Linked DNA regions of Homo sapiens: region 1 is linked to region 2. The links come from fine-mapping of genetic effects on gene expression. A gene starts in region 2. The other region holds a variant in brackets. All regions are shown on one strand. Distances are between the middles of the regions. Region 1 overlaps LOC105377448 (a long non-coding RNA gene). Region 2 holds the start of NOCT (nocturnin).

Evidence for each region. PIP is the estimated chance that this variant, and not a neighbour inherited with it, causes the effect.
Region 1: its variant is the best candidate, but not a certain one, in a credible set for the expression of NOCT in monocytes (TOPMed, PIP 0.63).

What each region holds. Positions count from the first base shown.
Region 1 is chr4:138,927,792-138,936,120 of GRCh38, forward strand. The region is part of intron 2 of LOC105377448 (a long non-coding RNA gene); the gene reads right to left. Among named protein-coding and RNA genes, the nearest start is that of NOCT, 84 kb to the right of the region's middle. RefSeq lists an enhancer at 5,171-5,725. The variant G/A (reference allele first, on the strand shown) is at 3,652.
Region 2 is chr4:139,011,259-139,019,587 of GRCh38, forward strand. It overlaps NOCT (nocturnin), which reads left to right and starts at 4,523. Exons shown (of 3, transcript NM_012118.4): 1 at 4,523-4,913. The coding sequence starts at 4,724. It overlaps LOC105377448 (a long non-coding RNA gene), which reads right to left and starts at 1,388. Exons shown (of 3, transcript NR_133945.1): 1 at 1,337-1,388. RefSeq lists enhancers at 2,883-4,082, 3,219-4,140, 4,173-4,522 and a silencer at 4,663-4,962.

The sequences.
Region 1 (8,329 bases), 83 kb before region 2:
ACAGTACATCTATGTTTGCAGTTGTTAAAAAAGAATTAGATCACTGTCAGGCCTCTGAGCCCAAGCTAAGCCATCATATCCCCTGTGACCTGCACGTACACATCCAGATGACCAGTTCCTGCCTTAACTGATGACATTCCACCACAAAAGAAGTGAAAATGGCCTGTTCCTGCTTTAACTGATGACATTGTCTTGTGAAATTCCTTCTCCTGGCTCATCCTGGCTCAAAAGCTCCCCCACTGAGTACCTTGTGACCCCCCACTCCTGCCCGCCAGAGAACCCCCCTTTTTCCTTTACCTACCCAAATCCTATAAAACGGCCCCACCCCTATCTCCCTTCACTGACTCTCTTTTCGGACTCAGCCCACCTGCACCCAGGTGAAGTAAACAGCTTTATTGCTCACACAAATCCTGCTTGGTGGTCTTTTCACACAGACGTGCATGAAATTTGGTGCCGTGACTCGGATCGGGGGACCTCCCTTGGGAGATCAATCCTCTGTCCTCCTGTTCTTTGCTTGGTGAGAAAGATCCACCTACGACCTCAGGTCCTCAGACCAACCAGCCCAAGAAACATCTCACCAATTTTAAATCAGGTAAGCGGCCTCTTCTTACTCTCTTCTCCAACCTCTCTCACTATCCCTCAACCACTTTCTCCTTTCCACTCTTCAATCTCTCCCTTCTCTTAATTTCAATTCCTTTCATTTTCTGGCAGAGACAAAGGAGACAGGTTTTATCTGTGGACCCAAAACTCCGGTGCCGGTCACGGACTAGGGAAGGCAGCCTTCCCTTGGTGTTTAATCATTGCAGGGACGCCTCTCTGATTATTCACCCAGGTTTCAGAGGTGTCAGACCACGCAGGGACACCTGCCTTGGTCCTTCACCCTTAGCGGCAAGTCCCGCTTTTCTGGGGAAGGGGCAAGTACCCCAACCCCTTCTCTCCGTGTCTCTACCCCTTCTCCACCTTTCTGGGGGGGCAAGAAACCCCCAACCCCTTCTCCTTCACCCTTAGCAGCAAGTCCTGCTTTTCTGGGGGAGGGGCAAGTACCCCAACCTCATATCTCTGTGTCCCAATCCCTTATTTCTGCACCCCGACCTCTTATCTCTGTGCCCCAATCCCTTATTTCCATGCCCCGACCCCTTATATCTCTTTGCCCTGATCCCTTATTTCCGCACCCCAACCTCTTATATTCTCTGCACCCCAATCCCTTATGTCCATGCCCTGACCTCGTATTTCTGTGCCCCGACCCCTTTCCCACTTTTCTGGAGGGTAAGAACCCCTGAACCCCTTCCCCCCGTGTCTCTACTCTCTTTTCTCTGGGCTTGCCTCCTTCACTATGGGCAACCTTCCACCCTCCATTCCTCCTTCTTTTCCCTTAGCCTGTGTTCTTAAGAACTTAAAACCGCTTCAACTCTCACTTGACCTAAAATCTAAGCATCTTATTTTCTTCTGCATTGCCACTTGACCCCAATACAAACTCGACAGTAGTTCCAAATAGCCAGAAAACGGCACTTTGAATTTTTCCATCCTGCAAGATCTAAATAATTCTTATCGTAAAGTAGGCAAACAGTCTGAGGTGCCTGACGTCCAGGCATTCTTTTACACATCGGTCCCTTCCTAGTCTCTGTGCCCAATGCAACTCGTCCCAAATCTTCCTTCTTTCCCTCCCACCTGCCCCCCTCAGTCCCAACCCCAAGCATCGCTGAGTCTTTCTAATCTTCCTTTTCTACAGACCCATCTGACCTCCCCTCCTCCCCAGGCTGCTCCTCGCCAGGCGGAGCTAGGTCCCAATTCTTCCTCAGCCTCTGCTCCTCCACCCTATAATCCTTTTATCACCTCCCCTCCTCATACCCGGTCCGGCTTACAGTTTCATTTGACTAGCCACCCCCCGACCTGCCCAGCAATTTACTCTTAAAAAGGTGGCTGGAGCTAAAGGCATAGTCAAGGTTAATGCTCCTTTTTCTTTATCCCAAATCAGATAGCGTTTAGGCTCTTTTTCATCAAATATAAAAATCCAGCCCAGTTCATGACTCCTTTGGCAACAACCCTGAGACAGTTTACAGCCCTAGACCCTAAAAGGTCAAAAGGCCGTCTTATTCTCAAAATACGTTTTATTACCCAATCTGCTCCTGACATTAAATAAAACTCCAAAAATTAAATTCCGGCCCTCAAACCCCACAACAGGATTTAATTAGCCTCACCTTCAAGGTGTACAATAATAGAAAACAGTTGCAATTCCTTGCCTCCACTGTGAGACAAACCCCAGCCACATCTCCAGCACACAAGAACTTCCAAACACCTGAACCGCAGCAGCCAGGCGTTCCTCCAGAACCTCCTCCCCCAGTAGCTTGCTACAAGTGCCAGAAATCTGGCCACCAGGCCAAGGAATGCCTGCAGCCCAGGATTCCTCCTAAGCCGCTTCCCATCTGTGCAGGACCCCACTGGAAATTGGACTGTCCAACTCACCTGGCAGCCACTCCCAGAGCCCCTGGAACTCTGGCCCAAGGCTCTCTGACTCCTTCCCAGATCTTCTTGGCTTAGCAGCTGAAGACTGACGCTGCCTGATCACCTCAGAAGCCCCCTAGATCATCACGGACGCCGAGCTTTGGGTAACTCTCACAGTGGAGGGTAAGTACTTCCCCTTCTTAATACGGAGGCTACTCACTCCACATTACCTTATTTTCAAGGGCCGGTTTCCCTTGCCTCCATAACTGTTGTGGGTATTGACAGCCAGGCTTCTAAACCTCTTAAAACTCCCCAACTCTGGTGCCAACTTAGACAACACTCTTTTAAGCACTCCTTTTTAGTTATCCCCACCTGCCCAGTTCCCTTATTAGGCCGAGACACTTTAACTAAATTATCTGCTTCCCTGACTATTCCTGGACTACAGCTGCATCTCATTGCCGCCCTTCTTCCCAATCCAAAGCCTCCTTTGCGTCCTCCTCTTGTATCCCCCAACTTTAACCCACAAGTATAAGATACCTCTACTCCCTCCTTGGTGACCCATCATGCACCCCTTACCATCTCATTAAAACCTAATCACCCCTACCCCGCTCAATGCCAATATCCCATCCCACAGCATGCTTTAAAAGGATTAAAGCCTATTATCAATCACCTGCTACAGCATGGCCTTTTAAAGCCTATAAACTCTCCTTACAATTCCCCCATTTTACCTGTCCTAGAACCAGACAAGACTTACAGGTTACTTCAGGATCTGCGCCTTATCAACCAAATTGTTTTGCCTATCCACCCCGTGGTGCCAAACCCATATACTCTCCTATCCTCAATACCTCCCTCTACAACCCATTATTCTGTTCTGGATCTCAAATATGCTTTCTTTACTATTCCTCTGCACCCTTTATCCCAGCCTCTCTTTGCTTTCACTTGGACTGACCCTGACGCCCATTAGGCTCAGCAAATTACCTGGGCTGTACTGCCGCAAGGCTTCACAGACAGCCCCCATTACTTCAGTCAAGCCCAAATTTCATCCTCATCTGTTACCTATCTCGGCATAATTCTCATAAAAACACATGTGCTCTGCCTGCTGATCGTGTCCGACTAATCGCCCAAACCTCAATCCCTTACAAAACAACAACTCCTTTCCTTCCTAGGCACAGTTAGTGCGGTCAGAATTCTTACACAAGAGCCAGGACT[G/A]CACCCTGTAGCCTTTCTGTCCAAACAACTTGACCTTACTGTTTTAGCCTAGCCATCATATCTCAGTGCAGCGGCTGCTGCCGCCCTAATACTTTTAGAGGCCCTCAAAATCACAAACTATGCTCAACTTACTCTCTACATTTCTCATAACTTCCAAAATCTATTTTCTTCCTCATACCTGACGCATATACTTTCTGCTCCCCAGCTCCTTCAGCTGTACTCACTCTTTGTTAAGTTCCACAATTACCATTGTTCCTGGCCGGGACTTCAATCCGGCCTCCCACATTATTCCTGATACCACACCTGGCCCTCATGACTGCATCTCTCTGATCCACCTGACGTTCACCCCATTTCCCCGCATTTCCTTCTTCCCTGTTTCTCACCCTGATCGCACTTAGTTTATTGATGGCAGTTCCACCAGGCCTAATCGCCACACACCAGCAAAGGCAGGCTATGCTATAGTACAAGTCACTAGCCCGCCTCTTAAAACCTCTCATTTCCTTTCCATCGTGGAAATCTATCCTCAAGGAAATAACTTCTCAGTGTTCCATCTGCTATTCTACTACTCCTCAAGGATTATTCAGGCCCCCCTCCCTTCCCTACACTTCAAGCTCGAGGATTTGCCCCCACCCAGGACTGGCAAATTAGCTTTACTCAACATGCCCCGAGTCAGATAACTAAAATACCTCTTAGTCTAGGTAGACACTTACACTGGATAGGTAGAGTCCTTTCCTACAGGGTCTGAGAAGGCCACCACAGTCATTTCTTCCCTTCTGTCAGACATAATTCCTCAGTTTAGCCTTCCCACCTCTATACAGTCTGATAACAGATCAGCCTTTATTAGTCAAATCAGCCAAGCAGTTTTTCAGGTGTTAGTATTCAGTGAAACCTTTATATCCCTTACAGTCCTCAGTCTTCAGGAAAAGTAGAACAGACTAATGGTCTTTTAAAAACACACCTCACCAAGCTCAGCCACCAACTTAAAAAGGACTGGACAATACTTTTACCACTTTCGCTTCTCAGAATTAAGGCCTGTCCTCGGAATGCTACAAGGTACAGCCCACTTGAGCTCCTTTTTATTAGGCCCCAGTCTCATTCCAGACACTAGACCAACTTGGACTGTGCCCCAAAAACTTGTCATCCCTACTGTCTTCTGTCTAGTCCTACTTCTATTCACCGTTCTCAACTACTCATACATGCCCTGCTCTTGTTTACACTGCCAGTTTACACTGTTTCTCCAAGCCAGCACAGCTGATATCTCCTGGTGTTATCCCCAAACCACCGCTCTTAACTCTTGAAGTAAATAAATAATTTTTGCTGGCAGGACTATGATGAATCTCCTAAGGCACTCTAATTATATGTCCTAGGTCCTCCCAATTCTTAGTCCTTTAATACCTGCTTTTCTCCTCTTATTCCATTTACTTTTTCAATTCATACAAAACCGTATCCAGGCCATCACCAATAATTCTACATGACAAGTGTTTCTTCTAACAACCCCACAATATCACCCCTTACCACAAGATCTCCCTTCAGCTTAATCTCTCCCACTCTAGGTTCCCACGCCACCCCTAATCCTGCTCGAAGTAGCCCTGAGAAACATCGCCCATTATCTCTCCATACCATCCCCCAAAATTTTCGCTGTCCAAACACTTTACCACTATTTCATTTTATTTTTCTTATTAATATAAGAAGACAGGAATGTCAGGCCTCTGAGCCCAAGCTAAGCCATCATATCCCCTGTGACCTGCACGTACACATCCAGATGACCAGTTCCTGCCTTAACTGATGACATTCCACCACAAAAGAAGTGAAAATGGCCTGTTCCTGCTTTAACTGATGACATTGTCTTGTGAAATTCCTTCTCCTGGCTCATCCTGGCTCAAAAGCTCCCCCACTGAGTTCCTTGTGACCCCCCACTCCTGCCCACCAGAGAACAACCCCCCTTTTTCCTTTACCTACCCAAATCCTATAAAACAGCCCCACCCCATCTCCCTTCGCTGACTCTCTTTTCGGACTCAGCCCACCTGCACCCAGGTGAAATAAACAGCTTTATTGCTCACACAAAGCCTGTTTGGTGGTCTCTTCACACGGATGCGCATGAAATTCACTTTATATCCACTGACCTGGAAAATGTACACAATACAGTGTAAAACTTTTTAAAGCAAATTATAGAAGATAAAATGATCGCATCTGGGAAAATATGTGTGTACATTTTTTTTTTTTTACTAGTCCTGTCTCATCCTAGGGAGATCATAAAGTTACCTTTGGGAGGTAGAATTAATTGGGGACAAGAATGAATAAATGAGATGACTTTTCACTTCATGCCTTCTGCAATGTTTAGGAAAAAAACATTTCAGAGCATGTCTTTCTGATAATTTGTTTTAAAAAATCACATTAAGATAAAATCATTTACTGCACATTGACCGGGCACGGTGGCTCATGCCTGTAATCCCAGCACTTTGGGAGGCCAAGATGGGCAGATCACGAGGTCAGGAGATCAAGACCATCCTGGCTAACATGGTGAAACCCCGTCTCTACTAAAAATACAAAAAATTAGCCGGGCGTGGTGGTGGGCACCTGTAGTCCCAGCTACTTGGGAGGCTGAGGCAGGAGAATTGCTGGAACCCAGGAGGCAGAGGTCGCAGTGAGCCGAGATCGCACCACTGCACTCCAGCCTGGGCGACAGAGCGAGACTCCATCTCAAAAAAAAAAAAAAAGAAAAAAACATTTACTGCACATCTGTACAATGAATATTAAGTGACCATTAAAAATGATGATGTTGGCCAGGGGCATGCCCCAAGCTCGTAATCTCAGCACTTTGGGAGGTCAAAGCAGGCAGATCTCTTGAGCTCAGGAATTCAAGACCAGCCTGGGCAACATGGTAAAACTATCTCTACAAAAAAACAGAAAACAGCCAGGCAAGGTGGCACACGCCTGTGGTCCCAGTTACTTGAGGGGATGAGAAGGGAAGATGGCTTGACCCCGGGAGGTCCAGGCTCCAGTGAGCCATGTTTGCACCACTGCACTCCAGCCTGGGTGACAAAGTGAGACTCCATCTCAAAAACAGAAAAGGTTAATGCCGTAATCTATACATATTGACCTCAAAATGTGGCCACAACATATATTTCTGAAAAAAAGAAAAGAGGTTACTGAACAATATATGTAAGACAAACACGTTTGCATAAAATTCTGCATCTGTTGAGAGAACAGTGTCAGCTGTCTGAAAAGATGTTCCTCAAATATTGATAGTAGTTATTGCTGGGTAGTGTTACTTTTAGTGATTTTTACTTTCTTTATACTTTTCTGTGCTATGTAATTTTTTTTACAATGAGTGTATAACCTTTTTCTAAATCAGAAAAAAAATCTATTTCTATTTTGAAAGTTTTAATATGTGCTAGGAAAATAAGAAGAGTAAGAACGTTTCACAAAATGAATAAAAAGTAATTTCTTCCTGATTCCCAGTAGTATCTCTAAAGTCAGCACCAATAAGGATCATAACTTAGAACTGCATATTTTCTGAGTTGAATCTTTTTGCCCCAATTTTGCTAACTATACTAAAAACAGTATTTCAAATTCCCCCCACCACAGAGAAAATACAAGTTCATCCCTAATCTATTCAGCAAATTCAACCCCAACCAGGGGTTTCTTCCTAAACTAATTTATTCTTAACTTTTTCATTTATCTCCCAAGCACTATGTTTGATGTTTAAAAAGAAAAAGCACTGACTTGACCTAATATTAGTACTACATGAATGTGCAGGTTTATTTTCCCAATTTTGTCCTGATGGCAGTAATTATTTCAGAACCTTGCTAAGTCTTACTTGCTTATCAGTCTTTCCAATAATTCTTACCAGCAAAACTGGCAGTTTTATCCTTCTTTTCAACAGAGATTTAGAGGCCAAGAACTATAGTGAATTCTCACCTGACAAAGCGTTTATTGCCTTTTTCAAAATATACTGCAGGACGTTTATTAGTAGACTATGAAGTATTTATCACCAGTAATTAAAAATAAGCTGTACTTGTTGGAATAAATGCAGAGTCAGAGATGCAATACTATTACTTTTTATTGTTTATTTGCTCTTCTTTTAACCTAATATAAAAATTCCTTTACTAACGTGCTAAGGCATTTATCTTAAGGCTGATGTTAAACAAACCTGTTTGCATTTTACTAAGCAGACAAGGAAAGCATCAGAAGTCACTATAAAAAGATTTCTAAGGCAACAGTGAGAAGATCCAGGAATGTTTGTGCACTGCTAGTAGAAATAAAGGCAAATTGACCTTTAAAAGATAAGAAGGTAATCTGCAACATAGAGCAACCACGTTCTCATCCTTTAACCTAAAAATTCCACTTATAATTTGTATCCTAAAAACTAATCATAAATATACAAAAGTGATAGCTACAAGATTGTTTAACCATTGGAACTTAGTTTTTTAAATTTTCCGAATAACAAAACACCTTGCAGCCATTAAAAATAGTGTTGCAGAAGAATATTTAATTACAAAGAAAAATAGGAGACAAGGAGTTTATAATATGCATATGCACAACATGATTGCAAGTTATAGCTTAGATAAATAGACAGATAGAGATCAGAACTAGAAATATATCAATCAAGCATTAATAAGTCACCAAAACATAAATGTTGAAATCTCTGGAGGATGGAATTATGGGTGGGGTGTAT
Region 2 (8,329 bases):
CACCGTCCTTACCCATTTTCAACACTGCTGGCAGAAAGATCCAATGATCCTTCAAAAATGCAAACTGTCTGTTTAGCCTTTCACTGGGTCTCTAGGATGAAAGTCCAAACTCCTCTCAAACCCGTCACCTTGGGTTCTTGCCCACAGCTTCCACCTCACCTGCGGCCACTCCCTATGGACATCCCGCACTCAACCCTTATCAGATTGCAGCACTTGCTGTTCCTGGAACACGCCTTCTTTCCTCGCCTTAGTGTTCTCTTCTCTGTGGATATCCTCTGTGATACCTTTCCACTTGGTAGTCACTTTGTTCAAAACGCCTCTCCTGACTTCTCTAGGCAATTAGTTATTTCTGTCAGAGGTGTTGGAGCCAGAGCAACTCTATGTTGAATAGAGGCTGAGACCTACTGGGCTGCATTGCCAGGAGGTTAGGGATTCCTAGTCACAGGATGAGATAGGAGGTCAGCACAAGATATAGATCATAAAGACTCAGCGGATGAAACAGGATGTGAAAAAGAAACCAGCCGGCCGGGCGCATTGGCTCAGCAGACGGATCACGAGGCCAGGAGTTCAAGACCAGCCTGGCCAACATGGAGAAACCCAGTCTCTACTAAAAAAAAATACAAATTTAGCCAGGTGTGTTGGACTACTACGCGCCTGTAGTCCTAACTACTCGGGAGGCCAGGAGTTCAAGACCAGCCTGGCCAACATGGAGAAACCCAGTCTCTACTAAAAAAAAATACAAATTTAGCCAGGCGCGTAGGACTACTATGCGCCTGTAGGCCTAACTACTCGGGAGGCTGAGGCAGGAGAATTGCTGGAACCCGGGAGGCGGAGGTTACAGTGAGCCGAGACCGTGCCATTGCACTCCAGCCTGGGTGACAGAGCGAGACTCCATCTCAAAAAAAAAAAGAAACCAGCCAAAACCCACAACAACCAAGATGGTGATGAAGGTGACCTCTAGTTGTTCTCACTGTTTATTGTACGCTAATTATAATGCATTAACATGATAAAAGACACTCCCACCAGTGCCGTGACAGTTTATAAATGGCACAGCAACATCCAGAAGTTACCCTATATAGTCTAAAAGGCAGAGAAATCCTCAGTCCTGGGAAATCCTTGCCCCTTTCCTGGAAAATTCACGAATAACCCTCTCCCTAGTTAGCATGTAATCAAGAAATAGCCATAAAAATAGCCAACAAGGCCGGGCGCAGTGGCTCACGCCTGTAATCCCAGCACTTTGGGAGGCAGGTGGATCACTTGAGATCATGAGTTTGAGACCAGCCTGGCCTACATGGCGAAACCCCATCTCTACTAAAAATAGAAATAAAAAAATTACCTGGGTGAGGTGGCACGCATCTGTAATCCCAGCTACTCTGTGGGCTCAGCAGGAGAATCACTTGAACCTGGGAGGTGGAGGTTGCAGTGAGCCGAGATCGTGCCGTTGCACTCCAGCCTGGGTGACAGAGCGAGACTTCATCTCAATTAAAAAAAAAAAAAAGAAAAAGAAAAAGCCATAAGCAGCCCTCAGTGCTGCTCTGCCTATGGAGTAACCATTCTTTTATTTCTTTACTTCTCTAATAAATTTGGTTTCACTTTATGAGCTCGTCCTGAATTCTTTCTTGTGTAATATTCAAGAACCCTCTTTTGGGGTCTGGATTGGGACCCCTTTCCAGTAACATTTCCTCTTCTCTGGTCCCACAATACTTTGTCCATAAGTGATTCTGTACTTATTAGCAGATAATTACAAGTATTTTTGTTTATACAATGTCTTACCCCCTAAACTGTCAATAGATTTTGTTCAATTTATTTTTGTATGCTCTAATATAGAGCCTGGCACATAATGTGTATTCAACAAATGTTTACTGAATAAATTTTCAAGGGAATAAGTTTTAATTTCTATCTTTCTGATTGCTTAGTGTTTAATATATTATAAAAAATATGATTCAGGCCGAGCGTGGTGGCTCATGCCTGTAATCCCAGCACTTTGGGAGACTGAGGCGAGGGGATCACCTGAGGTCAGGAGTTTGAGACCAGCCTGGACAATATGATGAAACCTTGTCTCTACTAAAAAATACAAAAATTAGCCAGGCGTGGTGGTGTGCGCCTGTAGTCAGAGCTACTCCAGAGGCTGAGGCAGGAGAATGGCTGGAACCCGGGAGGCGGAGGTTGCAGGGAGCCAAGATGACGCCACTGTACTCCAGCCTGGGCAACAGAGCGACAGACTCCATCTCAAATAAATAAATAAAAAAAAAATAAATAATATGATGCACTTTCAGGATAGCATGCTCTTTGAATCTCTTTAAATAGTGACAGTTTATATTTGAACAGTTATTTTTTCATTTTTCAAAGCACTTTTCCCCAACATTTTATTATGAAAATCTCCAAATATATGGGGGAAAAATAATTGTAAGTGAACACTTGTGTCGGGACTCAGAAACTGATAGCCCAAAATATGGGGCTTTGACCGGCTGAATGGAAGCCTCAAGGTCTCTCTGACCTCACTGCCCAGCACCATCTCTCCCAAAGCACAGGATGAAGTTGAAGTTCCTTTATCTGGCTACAATCCGAACCCACCAAAAGGAACAATTGTTTTTTCTTCCCCTCCTTGTAAGACCAAAAATGTAACCACCTGAACAGACCCTTTCACAAGATAATGTGCAAGTTCATCCCTGTGCCCTGATCCATTCACTTTCCCTAGTCATCTCCTCAACAGAATGCCTCTGCTCCCCTCTCCCCAAGTCTGTTGGCCAGGATGGTAGACAAGCTTCTGAACCCCGTTGGGGGTGTGTAATCACTCTGTGATTCTCCCCATGTACATGTTAATAAATGCATATGCCTTTTCTCCCATTAATCTGCCTTTTGTGAGTTGATTTTTCAGCAAACTTCAGAGGGCAAAGGGAACATTTTTCCCATGGTCCCTATACCCATATATACCCACTACCTAGATTCAAAATCAACATTTTGCTATATTTGCAAAACACTTTTCATAGGCTAATTTTATTATCACCTTTTTAAAAAAATTCTTTTTACAAGTACTGCTCCTTGTGGAGCAGGACTACTCGATAGACAGTGTGCCCAGAGTAGCTTATTATCATTTTTTATTTCACCTAATGACTAAGGTATGATTCTATGTTTTATAGATAAGGAAACTGAAACTGAGGCTTTAATGACTTCCAAGGAGCTTGTCTGCCAGAAGTTGTAATCAACTTGTGCCAGCTGATCTGTCCACACCCTCTATCCACAGGTGTTAGATATGTAACCTAGGTCTGAAAAATATTTAGAATATTCTTGTGATGAAAAGCTTGCAATTCCACAACACAGGGGAATCAGCAAAATCATGGGAAAACCAATAGAATACATTTCTAACTCATGAATCATTCAGAGAAAAATCCAGTCTTGGGTTTTCCCTCCCCCTCATCCCATTTCTATTCCTGATTAGTCATCATTTCCTGCCCAGCCTGTCTGAGATGTTTCTTCCATCCTTTCTTTTCCAGTAACAGTAACCTGGTGCGGGTCTACAGTATCTGTTATCTCAGCTGATTTCCTTTCTGCCTTTTCATGAACCAGAGACATGTGATTTCCAATTAAAGCACAGCCCTGACCATGTCTTTGCTCAGCTTACAAAACGTCAACGGCTCGCAGCTATCCACCGAATTAAGCCTACTATAATCCCCTTCCTTCCACACTACAACCTATCCACGCATCTGTCCTCTTACTCCTTAGCTTCCATCTTACATGACTAAGAGTTGTTTCCCCAAATACACCCTTATTTACTTTTTTCATTTATAACTCACCACCACCCCCTCCAAAGTTTCACGTGGGTAAATTCTAGACCTCCACGTCATAGGCCAACTCAAATGCCAATCCTTCTAATGAACCTTCTAGAGAGCCCGGGCCTGTTGTCATCTCTATAGCCAATCTTTGGCATCTTGTGGCAATAATCTCATTCTACCTTGTAGAGCTTTCTGGTCTGACTTCCCTTGCCACCTTCTGCTCCCTTTGCCTAAGTATAACACTTTTGAGGAAAAGAACGCTGTTTTAATCATCGTCGCCTCGCCCACAGGCGGTGCTTTATTGTGCTTAATATCGTTTAACGCATCACACACTGCCGAGGGGGTCGGAGGCGGACGCCTTTTGCTGTATCCACACAGACCCGCGCAGGCACACACGTAGGCCGTCTGCCACTCTGACAGACACGTGTCCCCTGGGCCACAGCCCTGGAACTGTCTCGGGATTCCCAGCCTGTGGGCGCTTCCATGCTGGCCAGCGGAAGGGGACGCTTTTTTCTTCAGAACAGCTCCAACGGATACCTCTTATTTTAGACCGCCTGCGGATTCTATCTATAAATCAGCCTAAGCCCCGCTTCCTTTTAAAACAGGATTACGCCGGGTCGAGGGAGCCTGGCGTGGCCGCGCAGTGGCCGGGTCCCGCGGATTCCCCTCCAGCTCCCGCTTGGTAGCGCCCGCTTTGTCAGCGCGCAGCGCTCGCCGGGCGCCCTGCAGGTCTCGCCAGGTCTCACAGCAGACGGTGCCGACGCAGCGGTGTTGCACCTCCCTCTCCGGCTCTGCTGCCCGGGATTTCCCCAGAACCTGCGCCGCGCGAGAAGGAGCCTGGGAGCATCCGCCCACACTGCCCGGACAGTCGGCTCGACTCGGTGCCCTCGGCCCCAGCCGGGCTCCGCTCCTCGGGCGCGCGAGGGGCCGTGGTGGCGGCGGCGCCCGGCATGTTTCATAGTCCGCGGCGGCTCTGCTCGGCCCTGCTGCAGAGGGACGCGCCCGGCCTGCGCCGCCTGCCCGCCCCAGGGCTGCGCCGCCCGTTGTCCCCGCCGGCTGCTGTTCCCAGGCCCGCATCCCCCCGGCTGCTGGCGGCGGCCTCGGCGGCCTCGGGCGCCGCGAGGTCGTGTTCCCGAACAGGTGAGTGCACCCCAGTTCCGGGCGGAGAACGCCACGGCCGCCAACGCGCGGCCGCCACCTGGAGACCGCGCGGAATGAATGAGAAGCCCGGGGCTGCCGGTCGTGGAGTCTGGCCTGAAAGTGGGTCCTTTACCGGAGCAACCTTCTGCGTTCCCTTTTTCCTCTTTCCCTGTTCCCCGACTTGCCTGGGGCTTGCATCAAAGCTAGTAAGAACTGGGAGACTGTATTCAGGTTCCCGCTTGACCCTTAGAGGCCATGCTTTCAGAATTTCTTGTTCTTGACCGTTAAATTTCCCCCTTCCGAGGCCGCGAGTTACTATGTTGGTTACATTTTTTATTGCACGACTTAACGGAAATTTTTATGGAAAAAAAAATCTAAATGATGCTTATTTGCTTATATAGCTTTCATGGTCTAGATATTAAGTTTTTTTTTTAAGTCGTGATAATAACACATTGATTCGTTTTACGTTGTTTTTTTTTTTTTTTTTTTTTTTTTTTTTTGAGATGGAGTCTCACTGTGTCACCCAGGCTGGAGTCCAGTGGCACGATATCGGCTTACCGCAACCTCCCGCTCCCGGGTTCAAGCGATTCTCCTGCCTCAGCCTCCCGAGTAGCTGGGATTACAGGCGCCAGTCACCACGCCTAGCTAACTTTTGTATATTTAGTAGAGACGGGGGTTTCACCATTTTGGCCAGGCTGGTCTTGAACTCCTGACCTCGTGATCCACCCGCCTCAGCCTCCCAGAGTGCTGGGATCACAGGCGTGAGCCACCGCGCTCGGCCATTTTACGTTTCTTTGGATTTTTTTTTTTTGGAGGCTTCCACTCTTTATAGTTAACATCATTTTTTGTCCTGTGTATCTAAGATCTTGTAAAAGTGAGGCCTTAGTTTCACCAAGAGCTGTTTTCATACATCATAATAACTACCCTGAGTTTTCCTTTTTTGCTACCTCTGTTTCTGCCTGGGCACACATTACCATGGCCACAAATTACATACAAATTAATTATACTTTAAAAATTGATAAATTTTTTCTTTCAAAACTAGGCAATACATAACTTTTTTTTTTTTTTTTTTTGAGACGGAGTTTTGCTCTTATTTCCCAGGCTGGAGTGCAATGGCGCGATCTCGGCTCACCGCAACCTCTGCCTCCCGGGTTCAAGCGATTCTCCTGCCTCAACCTCCCGAGAAGCTGGGATTACAGGCATGCGCCACCGCGCCAGGCTGATTTTTGTATTTTTAGTAGAGATGGGGTTTCTCCATGTTGGTCAGGCTGGCCTCGAACTCCCTAGCTCAGGTGAACCTCCCGCTTTGGCCTCCCAAAGTGCTGGGATTACAGGCGTGAGCCACCGCCCCCCCGGCCTATAAAATTTAAAAAAATAGGCCGGGCGCGGTGGCTCACGCCTGTAATCCAGCACTGTGGGAGGCGGAGGCGGGTAGATCACCCGAGGTCAGGAGTTCGTGACCATCCTGGCCAATGGGCTTGGGCGTGGTGGCACTCGCCTGTAATCCCAGCTACTCTGGAGGCTGAGGCAGGAGAATCACTTGAACCTGGGAGGCGGAGTGTTGCAGTGAGCCGAGATCGCACCATTGCACTCCAGCCTGGGTGACAAGAGTAAAACTCCGTCTCAAAACAAAATTAATAAAAATTTTAAAAAATGTATATATTTTAAAAATGGTCATCTGGAATGTGATTGAAGCCAAGACTTTAAACTATTCGCATTGTTGGCAGATATTTAGGTATTTCCCAATCTAGTATCAAACTCCTGGCCTCGAGTTATCCTCAGACTCTGGAGCAGTTGAGATTTGCAGGTGGAAGCCACCATGCCCAACTTAGTCATTTTAAAATTAGGATGTTGAATTGGTTGCTGGAGATTCTGAACTATATTGTTCCTTAGAGTGAACTTGACAGTTAGATTCCCCACCCCCACCCCCAATTTCGTAGGAATGTGGTACATTGTGAAATAACTGCCAGAATGAGTATATTGCCTGATAACTTTTTTCTTGCTGGAAATTTTAAGAACAACATTGTTAGAGGTTTGAGGTAGGAAAAGTAAAAGAAAACCAGGTGATGTCTTCTGTACCAGCTTATATCTTAAATTCCCTCAAAGTCTCAGAGGCAGGGTTAGTAGGTACCTCCTCATGGGAATACTGTTAGCTTGTGTAAAACATAGATGGCTGTGTTATCTGAGTAATTACTGTTATCTGAGTAATAATATCAGGTCAGATTGGAATGTTGGGCTTTTGACCCAAGAAAGTGTTTAATGAACTTCTTTTAAGAAATCCCCTGAAACCCCCTAGTTTTACAGATAAGGAAATTGAAGGACTTTATGGTACTTAAACTTTTGTAGGCAGTTACTATAAAGTCTAGACAATTTTCCTGTTCATGCATTTTTAGCTTCAGCAGCTTGTTGGAAGAAACATGCCTGCATTGATTCATTCATTGCTTGTTCACTCATTCCAGATCTTTACAGAATGTCTCACACAATGTAGGTGCTTTATTATGGGAGTTAAAAACATGAGCTTTAGTCAGTCCCTAAGGAGTTTACTGCCCAGTAAGAGATGAGATTTGCACAATGAAATGGCTGTTTAATGAAATGAAACACCTTTTATTCTCTTGACTTGGAAATGGCACAAGGGTGCAGGAAAGCAGGAAGTCCCTTTTGGGCTTCTAGAAATGGGTGGCATTTCAGCTGGCTCTTGAAGCATGGTTAGGATTGGAAGAGATTACTATAAAGCGTTTTGTTTGGAAAAAGCAGGAGTAAATGCAGAAAGGCATGAGACACACACAGATGAGGAAGGGTGAGAGAAGAGGCACTTTGCAAAAATGGACATTGTTTTCCAAAGAGCCTCAGACCCAGCACTAAGTGCTTTTTAATTTTAATTTTTATTTTTATTTTTTTTGAGACAAGGTTCTCTCGCACTGTTGCCCAGGATGGAGTGTAGTGGCGCCACCTCTGCTCACTGCAACCTCCACCTCCCAGGCTCAAGCAGTTCTCCTGTCTCAGCCTCCTGAGCAGCTGTGACTACAGGCACACGCCACTGTGCCGGGCTAATTTTTGTATTTAGTAGAGACAGGATTTCAACGTGTTGCCCGGGCTCGTCTCAAACTCCCCAGCTCTGGTGATCCACCTGCTTTGGCCTTCCAAAGTGCTGGGATTACAGGTGTGAGCCACTGCGCCCAGCCTATGAAGTGCTTTTTTAAAATGCAGATTCTTGGATCCTACTGTAGACCTATTAAGTCTGAGTCATTCATGATGGGCCCTGGATTCCACATAACCAAATGAAATGACAAAAAGAATAACTCCAGATTGTTCTTCTATGCCCTCAAATTTGGACATCTGGCACCCATATGTGAGAGAGACATTGAAGGGGCCAAAAGCTCCTCTCCACTCCTGAGCCTTGTGGTGGGGAGTAGTGA